Linked DNA regions of Homo sapiens. The protein of the gene in region 2 interacts with the protein of the main gene of each other region in a biochemical or structural test. Each region holds a gene or a part of one and is shown on either strand. Other genes may lie near its edges.

The links. The genes of interacting proteins can lie anywhere in the genome.
Region 1: of the proteins of CYP3A4 (region 2) and AMFR, one has a biochemical effect on the other in vitro, tested with the Homo sapiens proteins (4 studies listed by BioGRID).

What each region holds. Positions count from the first base shown.
Region 1 is NC_000016.10:56,415,546-56,422,545, forward strand, and holds part of AMFR (E3 ubiquitin-protein ligase AMFR), read right to left. Parts: intron 1-7,000. UniProt on the Homo sapiens protein: E3 ubiquitin-protein ligase that mediates the polyubiquitination of lysine and cysteine residues on target proteins, such as CD3D, CYP3A4, CFTR, INSIG1, SOAT2/ACAT2 and APOB for proteasomal degradation.
Region 2 is NC_000007.14:99,766,282-99,775,306, forward strand, and holds part of CYP3A4 (cytochrome P450 3A4), read right to left. Parts: intron 6,409-9,025; coding exon 6,309-6,408; intron 3,955-6,308; coding exon 3,841-3,954; intron 3,576-3,840; coding exon 3,487-3,575; intron 2,222-3,486; coding exon 2,073-2,221; intron 978-2,072; coding exon 850-977; intron 616-849; exon of another isoform or gene 163-615; coding exon 96-162; exon of another isoform or gene 1-95.

The DNA of each region.
Region 1 (7,000 bases), on a different chromosome or scaffold from region 2:
CTGATTCATTACAAATGATTAAATTTAGTTCTATTCTGTCTGCCTAATGGGCCAAGGAAGTATGTAATACATTTTTAAAGGATTGAAACGAAAATAGTTCTGCTAAAGAAATAAACTGTTTTGGTACTTAAATCCTTCAAACAACCAGGAACAAACGCCCAAACTAGTTGCCCCAAATATCCTAATCTGTGTAACAGACCTATTCAAAATGGTCCAGATCACCAGGAGCATGGTGGCTCACACTTGTAATCCTGGCACTTTGGGAGACCAAGGTGGGAGGACTGCTTGAGGCCAGGAATTTGAGACCAGCCTGGGCAACACAGCAAAACCTTGCCCCTACTGAAAAATATATAAAATTTTTTAAAAAGAAAAAACAATTCAGGTAACTTGAAATGTTCATTTTTAAGGTGATGAAATAGATGCTAAAAAGACTCACCTTCATTGTGATCTAACCAATCTCAGCCACATTAACTAAGAGAAATGTCATAAGACAAAACCACAACCCCTCATGTCACATCCCCCAGCCAAACATGCCCCAGCTTTATTACGACGCAATTTCTTAAAATAATTCTTCCCGTTTTTACATGTAGTCAGTCATATGAATTTAAAAAATAAATGCAACACATTTAGCACTTGTTCGAGGCATGTGGGAAATCAGAAAAATGAGGGAGCTCTGAACCCTAAACTCAAAGAGCTTTTAGAATCTACAAGAGATAGAGCATGGTAAGCAATTTAACAGAAGGCCAAGCAGGCTACTACGAGAGTAATGATGGAGAAAAAAAACAAATTTAGGGTCACTTAAACATTTCTCTATTCAAAACAGTACTGTCACACACATCTTAAGTTATCAAATAAAAAATAAAGTATTATTTACTATTTCTCAAACTCTTTAAATAAAAGTCTATTTATTTATTTTTTTTCTGACAGTCTCACTCTGTTGCCCAAACTAAAGCACAATGGTGCAATCTCCGCTCACTGCAACCTCGGCCTTCCAGGTTCAAGCTATTCTCCTGTATCAGCCTCCCAAGTAGCTGGGATTACAGGTGTGAGCTACCACACTAATTTTTGAATTTTTTTATAGAGACATGGTTTCACCATGCTGCCCAGGCTGGTCTCGAACTCCTGGGCTCAAGTGATCCGTCTGCCTCGGCCTCCCAAAGTACTGGGATTACAGGCATGAGCCACTGCGCCCAGCCTAAATAAGTCTTTGAATTCAAATAAGGTATAAAAAATGTGTATCTTTAATTTATCCAAAAAAAGGTAAAAGTCTCTTATAATCCCATCACCCATAGAACAACCACTTCCTATTTTAATTTAAATGAAGATTTGAAAATTAACATGGCTAACCAGGAAAAAAAAAAAAAAAGTCTGAGTATACTGATACTAAAAAGGGAATTTATGTAAAAAGTAGATAAGCTGTTGTGAACTTTGTAACCAAAGCTACAAAGGATTGAAAGCAATCCTTATTTTAAGATTATAAGCAAAGTTTTTTAAAACACCTTAATGATTATTAATAACTATTCCATGTCTATTTATAGAAAAATACCTTAATTATAATGATTATATGTTAATTACAAATACTGACCTGGCACAGTATCTCGCACCTATAATCCCAGCACTTTCGGAGGCCAAGGTGGGGGGATTGCTTGAACTCAGGAGTTCAAGACCAGCCTGGCCAACATAGTGAAACCCCATCTCCACAAAAGATACAAAAATTAGCCGGGTGGGGTGGTGTGCACCTGTAGTCCCAGCTACTGAGGAGGCTGAGGTGGGAGGATCTCTTGAGCCCAGGAGGTCAAGGCTGCAGGGAACCGTGATTGCACCACTGTACTGCTCCAGCCTGAGCAACATAGTGAGGCCTTGTCTCAAATAAATAAATAAATAATATTGTGTCATACATATAACTTCTCAACTTCAGTTAACAAAGGCTTGAAAAATTGTAAATACAATTGAGCAACCCTGATGCAAAAATCCAAAATCTGAAATGCTCCAAAATCCAAAACTTTCTGAGCACCAACATGGCGTCACAAGTGGAAAATTCCACACCTGACCTCATGTGACGAGTCGCAGTCAAAATGCAGACTTACAACAGTTTACTCAGTGTCCCTAAGGGAAAAATGAAACTACCTTCAGGGTATGTGTATGAATGAGATGTATATGAAACAGAGGAATTTCATGTTTACATTTGGGTCCCATCCCCAAAATATTTCATTATGTATATGCAAATATTCCAAAATCCAGGAAAAAAATCCCAAATCCAAAACTTCGGGTCCCAAGCATTTTGGATAAAGTATTCTCAACCTATACTGAAAGAAACATAACTGGAGCATTCCTCATTTAAAAGCACTGGCTCATGTCTATAATCCCAGTACTTTGGAAGGCCAAGGTGGGTGAGTTGCTTGAGTCCAGGGGTTCGAGACCAGACTGAGCAACATGGCAAAACCCCATCTCTACTAAAAACACAACAAATGTAGCCAGGCATGGTGGTGTGTGCCTGTAGTCCCAGCTACTTGGGAGGCTAAGGTGGGAGAATCACCCTAGACACAGGGAGGTTGAGGCTGCAATAAGCCCAAATAGCATCACTGTACTCTAGCCTGGGCAATCGGAGTGAGACTCTGATTCAAAAAAAAAAAAAAAAACTGCTTAAAAAAAGTAAACTAAAATAAAATAAATCCCTGAATCAGGCACAGTGGAACATGCCTGTAATCCCAGCACTTTGGGAGGCTGACGAGGGAGAATCACGACGTCAGGAGTTCAAGACCAGCCTGACCAACATGGTGCAACCCCATCTCTACTAAAAATACAAAAATTAGCCAGGGGTGGTAGTGCTCTCCTGTAATCCCAGCTAGTCAGGAGGCTGAAGCAGGAGAATCGCTTGAACCCGGGAGGCGTAGGTTGCAGTGAGCCGAGATCATGCCACTGCACTCCAGCCTAGGTGACAGAGTGAGACTCCATCTCAAAAAAAAACAAAAAACAAAAAAACGCCAGGCGCACTGGCTCACACCTGTAATCCCAGCACTTTGGGAGGCCGAGGCGGGCGGATCACGAGGTCAGGAGATCGAGACCATCCTGGTTAACTCAGTCAAACTCCATCTCTACTAAAAATACAAAAAATTATCCGGGCACATGGTGGGCGCCTGTAGTCCCAGCTATTCAGGAGGCTGAGGCAGGAGAATGGAGTGAACCTGGGAGGCGGAGCTTGCAGTGAACCGAGATCGCGCCACTGCACTCCAGCCTGGGCAACAGAGCGAGACTCCGTCTCAAAAAAAAAAAGGAAATATGTGCACACACGTTTGTATAATATGTAGGTGTGAACTGTCAAGGACTTGATCAATTTGGGTATTTCTTAGTCTCCTACTTAACAACAGTACTTATTACAAGAATTTGATAATTGCCATTTCTGGAAGAGAGAAGCAGGTAACAGGGAGAGAGAGAGATCTACTTTTCACTGCATGTCACTTCTGTATCCCTTAACTTTTTTTTTTTTTTTTAATTTTAGACAGAGTCTCACTCTGTCGCCCGGGCTGGACTGCAGCGGCGCATTCTTGGCTCACTGCAACTTCCACCTCCCAGGTTCAAGCGATTCTCCTGCCTCAGCTTCCCAAGTAGCTGAGATTACAGGCACCTGCCACCATGCCTGGCTAATTTTTGTATTTTTAGTAGAGACGGGTTTCACCATGTTGGTCAGGCTGGTCTCAATCTCCTGACCTCAGGTGATCCTCCCACCTCGGCCTCCCAAAGTGCTGAGATTACAGGTGTGAGCCACCATGCCAGGCCTGTACCCCTTAACTTTTGTACCCTGAGCATGCATTATCTATTTTTTAAAATTTTTTTAAAGTTTAGAATCTACTAAACTAACCTGACTAGTTCTGCAATTCCACATTATTTTTCTCACCATATGATGACAAACTGATGAGTAACAAACCAAAACAAGTTCTCCTGTTACAGCACAGTATTTCAACTATGGCCAGGCGTGGTGGCTCATGCCTGTAATCTCAGCACTTTGGGAGGCCAAGGTTAGTGGATCACCTGAGGTCAGCAGTTCAAGACCAGCCTGGCCAACATGGTGAAATCCCGTGTCTACTAAAAATACAAAAAATTAGCTGGGCATGGTGGTGCACACCTGTAATCTCAGCTACTTGGGTGGCTGAGGCAGGAGAATTGCTTGAACCCAGGAGGCGGAGATTGCAGTGAGCCGAGATTGTGCCATTGCACTCCAGCCTGGGCGACAGAGAAAGACTCTGACTCAAAAAAAAAAAAATTCAACTATATTAAAACACTTCAGAATGTTTCTCATAGCTATAGTGCTGTCAAAGCTTCAAGTCATTTTTTAAAAACTCACCAAATGCCTTTTTTTTCCAGTCTACACAAAATAAAAACAAGTTTTACTTGTCCCCGTTCAGAGTGTAGCAGGTCAGGCAGCAGTGATCCCAGCAACCCTGACTTACTCAAGGCTCAAAGTTAATTCCCTTCACTCCAAGGCCCAGCAGGAAAATGTCCCTTCCAGAATGGTTCTACTCTTCTACTGGAGAAAACAGAAACTAAATTATAAAATAGTTAGGCCTGCCTGGGAGAAAAAGAGAGGAAGGTGCATTTATCACCATGTAACCCTACAGGTGTTTTTGACCCTGTAAAATGTTGGCCACCAACAGGTGCTTATTTATGACCTTGCAAAGACATGGGATTAAACTACTAGGAACCTATTCCAAGACATGGTCAATCTGGATATTTCTTAGACTCCTGCCTACACCAGCACCACTCCCCTGCGCCCCCTACCATTTGGTGGTTTCCTCCCTTTAAGGACAATTCACGTATTGTTACCTCTCTGCAGGCTCCCAGAAACAAACACATAATACAAACATGCACACACTCCCCTTCATCACATAGATGATAACTGTGTTCCTTCTTTAACAAGACTAGGGAAATAGACGAGAGTCCGCACGCAAAGCATACCTAGGAGGTGATCAAATAGCAGTCCCCTTCTCCCTCACCTGGAAGACATTCCTTTTATTTTTAATTTATCTAGGCTCACATCCAATTATTCACAAGTTTAGTCTTTTTTCCTTCAGCTGCCCCAACATTTCTGGAGCTAACATTTTTCCCTCATATACCTTGAAATAGTCAACTCATAAAGACTAAAACCTAGGAAGTCACTTTCAGCTCTTAATTTTGTTTTGTTTTTTTTTTTTGAGACCAGAGTCTCACTCTGGCCCAAACTGCAGTGCAGTGGCACAATCATAGCTCACTGTAACCTTGAGCTTCTGGGTTCAAGCAATCCTCCTGCCTCAGCCTCCCAAGCAGCTAGGACTACAGCACAGGCCACTACACTTAATTTGCATAATTAAGTCAGAACCTTGACAGTAGTTTCATATTTCTATTTCTCCATTTACATGTCTTGCTCTTAGAATTTTAGAAGCAGGTATTTTATATCTTTAAAGGGTTGTAAAACAAATTAAATAAGGAAGTTGCAGAGCCTAAAATATTCACCATCTGAGAGCACTTTAGAGAAAAATTGGCTGACTCTTATTTTAAAAAGCCTATTTTCACATAATTATAATGGTGACTAATTTTTTTTTTTTTTTTGGTAGAGCAGGGGGTCTCACTATGTTGCCCAGACTCCTGGGCAGCTCCTGGCCTCAAGCAATCCTCCACCTCCTGCCTCAGCCTCCGCCTCTCAAACTGCTGAGACTGCCGGTGTGAACCACTGAACCCAGCCCTTAAGTTTTATAATAATACGAAAATCGGCTCTTTAAAATAGGATTCAGCCAATTTTTCTCTAAAGTGCTCTCAGATAGTGAATATTTTAGGCTCTGCAACTTCCTTAATTTATTTAATTTGTTTTACAACCCTTTAAAAATATAAAAACCATTCTTAGCTGTTAAGACAAAAACAGGCCTAGTCAAATAGGTCACGAGTTTGCCAATCCCTGTTCTAAATGGTCAATTCACTTTTATCCACTTTTGTTTGTGGTCATTTTTCCCCTTGAGAGTTCTATTTAAATGATATTATTTGCATAATTAAGTCAGAACCTTGACATTAGTTTCATATTTCTATTTCTCCATTCACGTATCTTGCTCTTAGAATTTTAGAAGCAGATATTTAAGAAAGCAGAAAAGGGAACTAATAAAAGTAATGAGTAAGAATTAAAAAATGAAAAAGCCAAAACACCTGAACAATCCAAAACCATGCTAGAATGGACCAAGAGGTAGCTGAATGGAAGCATTATCTGAGCAATGTAAAATAGCCCAGAAATGAGTAACAAAATAAAAACTCATCTGAAATGAAACTTTAGGATGGAAGTTTTAGAAAGACAAGGAGAAACAAATTCTCAGGTCAAACCCACATATTTGTTAGTGTAAAAACCCTGAAGTCTCCTCCCAAATCCTTTCTCAATGTCATGCCTGAGGGCCACCTGGAGAGGCCCCCTTGGGAGGAGGAAGTTTTAGGTCACTAGATCTCCCGTCCTCTTCCCACTCTACATAAATCTATCTTCCACACTGCTCCCAATCTTCTAAAAGAAATCATGCCAGCACCCCCACTCCTCCATGCCCCACCCCCACTTAAGCCCCATCAATGGCTTCTCTCACTCCACAAAATACTGTCCACACTTGGTAGAGCAAGCAAGGTCAAGGTTACATGACATCACACTCTAGCCTCTTCCTAGGTCAGTTTTTCAACCACTAGTGTTCCTCAAATCACCTAGGGCATTCATTAAAATGAAGATTCCAAGGCTCCACCCTTCTCTCTGAAATGGATCCCCAGGGAAACTACATTTTACAAGTACCCCAGATGACCACATACCAGGATGCCAGAGGTCCACATTTTGAGAAAGAAACCTTCAAGGGGGTTGCTCACCTCCTCCTCTCACAGCAGAGCCACCTGCCCCACCTCCTTCACCTCCTCCCCACCTCCTTCACCCCCGGTCTCCTCTTCACCTTCTCAACCTCCCTCTTAAATCAGAAGATTCAACAGACTTTTAATTTAACAGCCCAGCTTCCGG
Region 2 (9,025 bases):
AATTCTCATCATCCTGGAATACTTCCTGCACATTTTCAGAACAAGGCCTTCCCTCTGAGTGCCCCACAAGTAGCCCTCAGAAACACTCTGGTTACCTTTGTGGGACTCAGTTTCTTTTGAATTCTGAGAGTCAATCATCAGCTGAAGGAAATCCACTCGGTGCTAGAAGCAAAAAGAGAAATTTCACTGACAGAAAGTGGCTCCTGAAGTCAGAAGTAAATCACAAGCGTGGTCCTTGATCTCCCTTCTGAGAATATGGCTCCTTGAAGACCAGAAATCTGATGCATGTTGCCTGAATCACCAGTGAAAAACATACCCTTCTAAATCCTTGGAAAGCAGGATGTTTTCCTGAAACAAATCTGGCTATCATGTGAGATGGCTCAAATTTAACACACGCTACACTTCAGCAGGTGGCCTGATAGGGACTTTCATTTGAGAATGTGTAAAATAACAGGTTTGTACTTGAAATGAGTCTTTACCAATTTATGATCTGGGGAAAGCATAATATCAGTAAAATATATTTCCAAACAGTAATGTTTATCCTCTGACAATTTATTGAAGGGAAGTAAAGTGGTAAAGTTTTATCTCAATAAAATTTATGCCGTGGCATACTAATTGTTGTGTCTGATATCAAATTTCATGTGCTGTCTCTGACTCATTCTCATATCTCCTTCCCCAAACCCCACTTTCTGCATTTCTACCAAATGAATTCTCTTGCTCTAAACATGAGCAGTCTTCATGTTAAAAGCATTCTTTAAAAACATACAGGTAACTGCACTGATCATATGTATATTATCTAAAAAATTATGAAAAACTAAACATCCTCCTATAACTACCACCACATTTTACCTTTTGTGTATCTTCGAGGCGACTTTCTTTCATCCTTTTTACAGATTTTCTTAAAAAATTTGTAACTTCTCTTGGAAACACACAGATATTTAATACTTCAAGAATTGGGATGAGGAATGGAAAGACTGCTGTAGGAAAAACAAAACAAAAACAGAAAAAGAAATTCATTGTGAATGTGCAAAATTTACCTGGAGCAATTCTAGTTTTCTCTACCAACCAGAAGAGTAAAAGACATCAAGGTTCTCAACTGGAAGCCATTCCTTCTATGACTTTTGCCCCTCTTTCAGGCCAGTGGCTGAGCAAGGGCAGGTCTATGCATAAGGAGCACCGCTACAGCAGTGAGATCAGCAGCCCCTTGTGCATCTTTTGAAGGATAAAAGGAACAAAATTCAATGCCCTAATCTCTTTGCCTTTATCTATTGGACTACAGTCTCCTAGAATAACCCAAATCATAATCTGAAGCTCAAAATTAATCTTGCTGTTCAAGAAATAGTAGGTAGTCAAGATAGAAATAACACAGCATATCTCTGTCACCTATCATGGAATAAAGATAAAATCAATAAGGGAAAGAAAATTGAGAAACTCACACATATGTGGAAGTTAAATAATAAACATTTAAGTAACCAATGAGTCAAAGTAGAAACCAAAAGGGCAAATAGAAACTGTTTTGAGGTGAACAAAAACTAAGATGTGATAGACCACAATCTCATGGGATTTAGCAAAGGAAGTGCTCAGAGGGAAAGTTACAGCTGTAATGTCTAAATTTAGAGGAACAAAAAAATCACAAATCAGTAATCTATGTTCATGCCACAACATAGTAAACGAAGAAGGGCAAACTAAGCCTGAAGCCAGCAGAAGAAAGAAAATGATACAGACTAAAGTACAAATTCATGAACTAGAGAATAAAAAACCCTGATGAATTAATATCATTTCTATGAAGTGTCCAGAATAGGCAAATCCATAGAAGCAGAAAGTTGATTAGTGGTTGCATATGATGACAGGGTTTGTGACAGGGGGCTGATAGCTAAAAATGTATGAGGTCTCTAGATTGACAAAAAAAGTTTTAAAGTTTAAAATGATGATGGTCACACATATCTTCAAATGTACTACAAATCACTGAACTGTATATTTTAAGTGGATGAATTACATGGTGATTTATATCTCAATAAAGCAGTTATTTTTAAGAGAGCAAGATAAATAAAAGGAAATAGTAGTCCACATACTTATTGAGAGAAAGAATGGATCCAAAAAATCAAATCTTAAAAGCTTCTTGGTGTTTTCCACAAAGGGGTCTTGTGGATTGTTGAGAGAGTCGATGTTCACTCCAAATGATGTGCTAGTGATCACATCCATGCTGTAGGCCCCAAAGACGCTGAGTGGAGAAAGATGTGGAAAATTAAAATCAGCACCTTTTTACCATCCTTCCTCTATGCATGCAACAGGAAACCCACATGTCCAGTCAAGACAGACAAACAGCCACAGACTTTCAGATCTACTAGATCACCTTCTATCACACTCCATCAGAAGGTGTTATCAGGTGCCAGTGATGCAGCTGGCCCTACGCTGGGTGTGATGGAGACACTGAACTGAATTAGACCTACCTCTGAGATCAAGGAGCCCATCATAGGAAGACAGAGACCCACTATCAGACAACTACAGTAGCATGTATTGATTGTGGATGATACAAGATGGGTAAGCACTGTGCTTCAGCAGAACAAGAGTAGAATAATTAACTCTTCCTAAGGGGCTCAAGACAGGTGATATTGCCTGACTGCAGACTCTATGCCCAGAGCCGATTCCTCTTCAGCACTTTACAAAGCAACAGTACCCTGTTCTGAGCTCCTAGAAATATCATCCTTATTCTCTATACTCCCTGCTCAAGCTTTGGAAAATTCCACTATCCCCAGCTGTGGTGAGCTGAGGTTGCCCTGACAGCAGAATTATTTTTGTAAAATATAATGACCAATAATGTCCTGGTTAAAAAAAAATCTCTCAAAATTTGATTTGGAAATTTCTATAGTGAGTGACCACATATCCCTGGTCTGCCCAGGACAAACTCAGATTACACCTGTTTTTACTGCATAAGTGTAGATAGCAAATAATAGGCTTGCCCTACCTATAGTGTTTTTACCACCCTCTCTCTTTGAGACTGGAGGAAAAAGAAATGGTAGGAATTTTAATATTTAGTATTCTACTGATATCCTCAGAAAAAAACATGAAATGATCAAAGTTATTCTAAGTTCTCCATTATAACTCTCCCAACCTACTCACTGCCAACCAACAGATACCAAGTGCCTTCCCCTTCCACCATCCCATACACTCCATGCTTAAAACTTTGGTACAATCACACTTTTTCCCCCTAAAGGATATATTTAGTCTTCTAGAATATCCAAGGTGACAATTTAATGGATATGTAAACCCTGGCCCCTGTGCACAGGGGAGAAGATCCTTTTCCTCCAGCTGCCCCACCTCCTCATCGGAGCTGCCCCATCTTGGGAGACCCATTGAAGTTGCATTACCACAGCCCTCCTTTTGTCTGGTCACTGGAATAACCCAACAGCAGGAATATCAGCTCCATGGCAGGCAGCTGGAGGGGTTCATGACAGCTCAGAACCCCATGGCTGCGCTTCTACTTACTCTTTCAAGGTGACAGGCTTGCCTGTCTCTGCTTCCCGCCTCAGATTTCTCACCAACACATCTCCATACTGGGCAATGATAGGGACCATCTAAGCACAAAACACAACACCACCCATAGTTAAATGTGCAGACTCTAGTCCCAGAAGGACATGGCTTTCCCCAGCATGGAGCAGTAAGTGACATTTTATAATGAATTTTGTGATGTGTTTTCTGTACATAAAGATAAAAGACCATTTTTAGGCAGCTCAAATTCAGTGGACTACCCCTTGGAAAGGGACTGTGATCTTATTTTATACCTGTCCCCACCAGATTCATTCTTTAAGTTTCTTATTAAAACTCATGTTATTTTCATACCTCCTTGAGTTTTCCACTGGTGAAGGTTGGAGACAGCAATGATCGTAATCTCTTCCATTCTTCATCCTCAGCTATAGAGATGGCACTTTTCATAAATCCCACTGGACCAAAAGGCTAGAGTTCAAAGCAGAAACATTTTGTCCTACATCAGTTGTGGAGGTCTCCATGGTTGTAGAAAATGTGTTAAACAGGAACACTTATTCAACAACTATTTAGTGACTGTCTACTGGGTGATGGGCCCTATGCTAGATGCTCAATAGAGATTTATCCCAGATGCCCAGTGTCCTGGGATGTATTTGTGTGGGGCGGGGCGGGGGGGTGGCGGCAGTGTTCAGGAGACCCTGATGTCGTCTCCAGCCTCTATATCCCAGTCTTCTTTTACATGCAAATTATCCACGTGGTAGAGAATGTGTTCTTCCAGTACAATAAACAGAATCAAGACCTAGCACTTCTGCAGTGTAGAGACGGAGTGGAGACAGACAAGCAGGTGACTTTGGTGGATTGTATGTTGCCTCAGACAAGCTGTCTTTATGTTCTCCTGCAGCATGGGCAACGTGAAAAAGAAGTGCCTCAATGTGATGGTTTTAAAAAAAATAGTAGGTAATACCTTTAAAACTAGGAACATATTTTGAAGAAATAATGCAATTCCATAAACATTCTTGTCTCTTAATTTTTTATTTCATGGATAGAAAGAAAAAAGAGATAATTATTTTTGCCAACTTGGAACTGGCCTATCAAGCCAACATGCTTGAAACTTTCTTTCATCTTCCATAGCCATTTTTTTTATAATGAGTACTTCCAGCATTCATTTATGATAAAAACTCAGCAAACTAGGGAGAGAAAATTCCTCAATTTGATAAAGAGAATCTACAAAAAAACAGCCCACTTCATCTAAATGATGCTTAATGATGAAAGAACTGAAGGCTTCCCTCCTAAGATTAGGAACAATTCAAAAATTCACCACATTTACTCAACATTATACTGGGAAGTCCTAGTGCAATAGACAAAAGAAAAGAAATAAAAGGCATACAGATTGGAAAGGAAATAAAAGAATTGTCTCTATTTTCAAGTGACATAACTGACAATGTGTAAAATCTCAAGGCATATACAAAGAGACTTCTAGAACTACTATGTCAGTTCTGCAAGGTTCTAGGATACCAGATCAACACACAAAATCAAAGCACATTTCTATGTAACAACAATCAATATCTGAAAATACAAGAAAAACATAATATCATTTACAGTCATTCCAACAAAAATGAAATAATTTAGCTGTAAATCTAACAAAACATGTACAGGATCTCTATGCTGAAAACTACAAGATGTTAAAAGCAATCAAAGAAAATCTAAGGAAATGGAGAGGCATACTATGTTCATGAATTGAAAGATCAAACAGTAAAGATACACATTTTCCATAAACTGGTCTATATATTTAATTCAATTCTTGTCAAAATAACAGCACGTTTATTTGTAGACACTGAGAAACTCATTCTGAATTTTTATGGAAAAGCAGAGGACCAGGAAGAGTTAAAACAAATCTGAAAAAATAAGTCAATAAAAGTGGGAAGAATCACTCTACACGAGGTTAAGAGTTAGTGTACAGCTACTAGGGTCAACACAGTGTGGTATTGGTGGAATAATAAACACAGTGATCAATGGGACACAGTAGTACGTGAGAGATGCAAAGAAGTATGCCCAGTTGATTTTTAACAATATACCCATCTTTCCAAAAATGGCGTTGGAGGAATTGGACAGCCATAAGCCACAAAAAAAATGAACCTTGATCTAAATCTCATACCTTATACAAAAAATAACACAAAATTGATAATAGAGCTACATTTAGTAAAGCATTAAACTTTATGACTTTTAGAAAAAAACAGCAATATAGGAAGGAGGGCTAGGCAAAGAACTTTCAAACATGGCACCAAAAGTACAATCCAGAAAAGGAAATATTAATACATTGATCACCTCAAAATAAAAAATAGTTTGCTCTGATATGGACCCTGTCAGAGAAAAAGACTTGTGACTGTAGGATAGCAGGAGGGAGCCACATGGAGACAGAGTGGATCTGCATCTTGATCATGCTGGTCATTGCACAAATCTACTAATGATGTGATAAATTTGTATAGAACACAAATGGGTTCTGCGTTTTGATCATGCTGGTCATTGCACAAATCTATGATTGTGATAAATTTGCATAGAACAGAAATGAGGGCACATAAAGCTGGTGAAATCTGAATAAGCTCTGTGAACTGTATCAATGTCAATTTCCTGTACTATATAGTAACATGAATATACTGTATTTATAGTTATGCAAGATTGCAAGATGTTACCATTCGGGGGGGACAGGATGAAGTGGACGTGGAACCTTCCTGGACATTTTTTAGGCAACTGTCTATGAATATATAAGAATTTCAAAATATAAATTTAATCAATCAGTATTTTAATTTCAACACATGAATGCTTACCCTCCGGTTTGTGAAGACAGAATAACATTCTTTCACTAGCACTGTTTTGATCATGTCAGGATCTGTGATAGCCAGCACAGGCTGTTGACCATCATAAAAGCTGTGTGAAAAAAACAGAGTTGATTAAACATCAACAGCCTTATTCTACAGCTGGAGCCCAACCCAGGAAGCCAGACTTTGATCCTGACTTTACATAATCCCTTAGTTGTACAATACACAGTAATCTTAGGTTCTAGTTCATTAGGTATGACACACAGCAAGAGTCTGACACAGGAGCCACTCAAGTCTTCATATGATGAAGGATAATGTGGGCCAAACAAGGAAGAGACATTGAAAGACAAAAGAGCTCTTCAAAGAGACCATGGTTAGAAATGACAGTAGAGCATTTGTTAAGCTGGGTGGTGCATACGTGGATATTTCCCATGCCATTCTCCATAATGTTTCATATGTTTAAAATATTTTATTTTAAAAAGAATATTAAACCAACAAAGATCAAAAGAGACAAAGATGGGCATTACATAATGGTGATGGGATCAATACAACAGGAAGAGCTAAATATCCTAAATATATATGCACCCAAATACAGGAGCACCCAGATTCATAAAGCAAGTTCTTAGAGACCTACAAAGAGACTAAGATTTCCACACAATAATAATGGGAGATTTTAACACCCCACTGTCAATATTAGACAGATCAACAAGACAGAAAATTAACAAGGATATTCAGAACTTGAACTCAGCTCTGGACCAAGAGGACCTAATAGACATCTACAGAAATCTCCACCCCAAATTAACAGAATATACATTCTTCTCAGCACCACATCGCACTTATTCTAAAATTGACCACATAATTGGAAGTAATATACTCCTCAGCAAATGTAAAAGAAAAGAAATCACAACAAACTGTCTCTCAGACCACAGTGAAATCAAATTACAACTCATGATTAAGAAAGTGACTCAAAATCACACAACTACATGGAAACTGAACAACTTGCTCCTGAATGACTACTGGGTAAATAAGGAAGTGAAGGCAGAAATAAAGATGTTCTATGAAACCAATGAGAACAAAGGCACAATGTACCAGAATCTCTGGGACACATTTAAAGCAGTGTGTAGAGGGAAATTTATAGCATTAAATGCCCACTAGAGAAAGCAGGAAAGATCTAAAATTGACACAGTAACATCACAATTAACAGAACTAGAGAAGCAAGAGTAAACAAATTCAAAAGCTAGCAGGAGACAAGAAATAACTAAGATCAGAGCAGAACAGAAGGAGATAGAGACACAACAAACCCTTCAAAAAATCAGTGAATCCAGGAGCTGGTTTTTTGAAAAAGGTCAACAAAATAGATAGACTGCTAGCAAGACTAATAAAGAAAAAAGAAGAATCAAATAGATGCAATAAATAATGATAAAAAGGATATCACCACTGATCCCACAGAAATGCAAATTACCATCAGAGAATACTATAAACACCTCTATGCAAATAAACTAGAAAATCTAGAAGAAATAGATAAATTCCTGGACACATGCCCCCTCCCAAGACTAAACCAGGAAGAAGTTGAATCTCTGAATAGACCAATAATAGGTTTTGAATTGAGGCAATTATTAATAGGCTACCAACCAAAAAAAGTCCAGGACCAAATGGATTCACAGCTGAATTCTACCAGAGATACAAAGAGGAGCTGTTATCATTCCTTCTGAAATTTTTCTGAACAATAGAAAAGGAGGGAATCCTCCCTAACTCATTTTATGAGGCCAGTATCTCCTGATACCAAAGCCTGACAGAGACACAACAAAAAAAGAGAATTTTAGTCCAATATCCCTAAAGAATATCGATGCGAAAATCCTCAATAAAATACTGGCAAATCAAATCCAGCAAAACATCAAAAAGCTTATCCACCAGGATCAAGTCAGCGTCATCCCTGGGATGCAAGGCTGGGTTCAAAATACCAAATCAATAAATGTAATCCATCACATAAACAGAACCAATGACAAAAACCACATAATTACCTCAATAGATGCAGAAAAGGCCTTTGACAAAATTCAACAGCCTTTCATGCTAAAAACTCTGAATAAACTAGGTATCAATGGAACGTATCTCAAAATAGTAAGAGCTATTTATGACAAACCCACAGCCAATATCATACTGAATGGGCAAAAACTAGAAGCATTCCCTTTGAAAACCGGCACAAGACAAGGATGTCCTCTCTCACCACTCCTATTCAACATAGTGTCGGAAGTTCTGAATAGGGCAATCAGGCAAGAGAAAGAAATGGATATTCAATTAGGAAAAGAGGAAGTCAAATTGTCTCTGTTTGCAGATGACATGATTGTATATTTAGGAAACCCCATCGTCTCAGCCCCAAAACTCCTTAAGCTGATAAGCAACTTCAGGAAAGTCTCAGGATACAAAATCAATTTACAAAAATCACAAGCATTCCTACACACCAATAATAGACAAACAGAGAGCCAAATCATGAGTGAACTCCCATTCACAATTACTACAAAGAGAATAAAATATCTAGGAATCCAGCTTACAAGGGATGTGAAGTTCTCCTCTTCAAGGAGAACTACAAACCGCTGCTCAATGAAATAAAAGAGGACACAAACAAATGGAAGAACATTCCATGCTCATGGGTAGGAAGACTCCATATCATGAAAATGGCCATACTGCCCAAGGTAATTTATAGATTCAATGCTATTTCCATCAAGCTA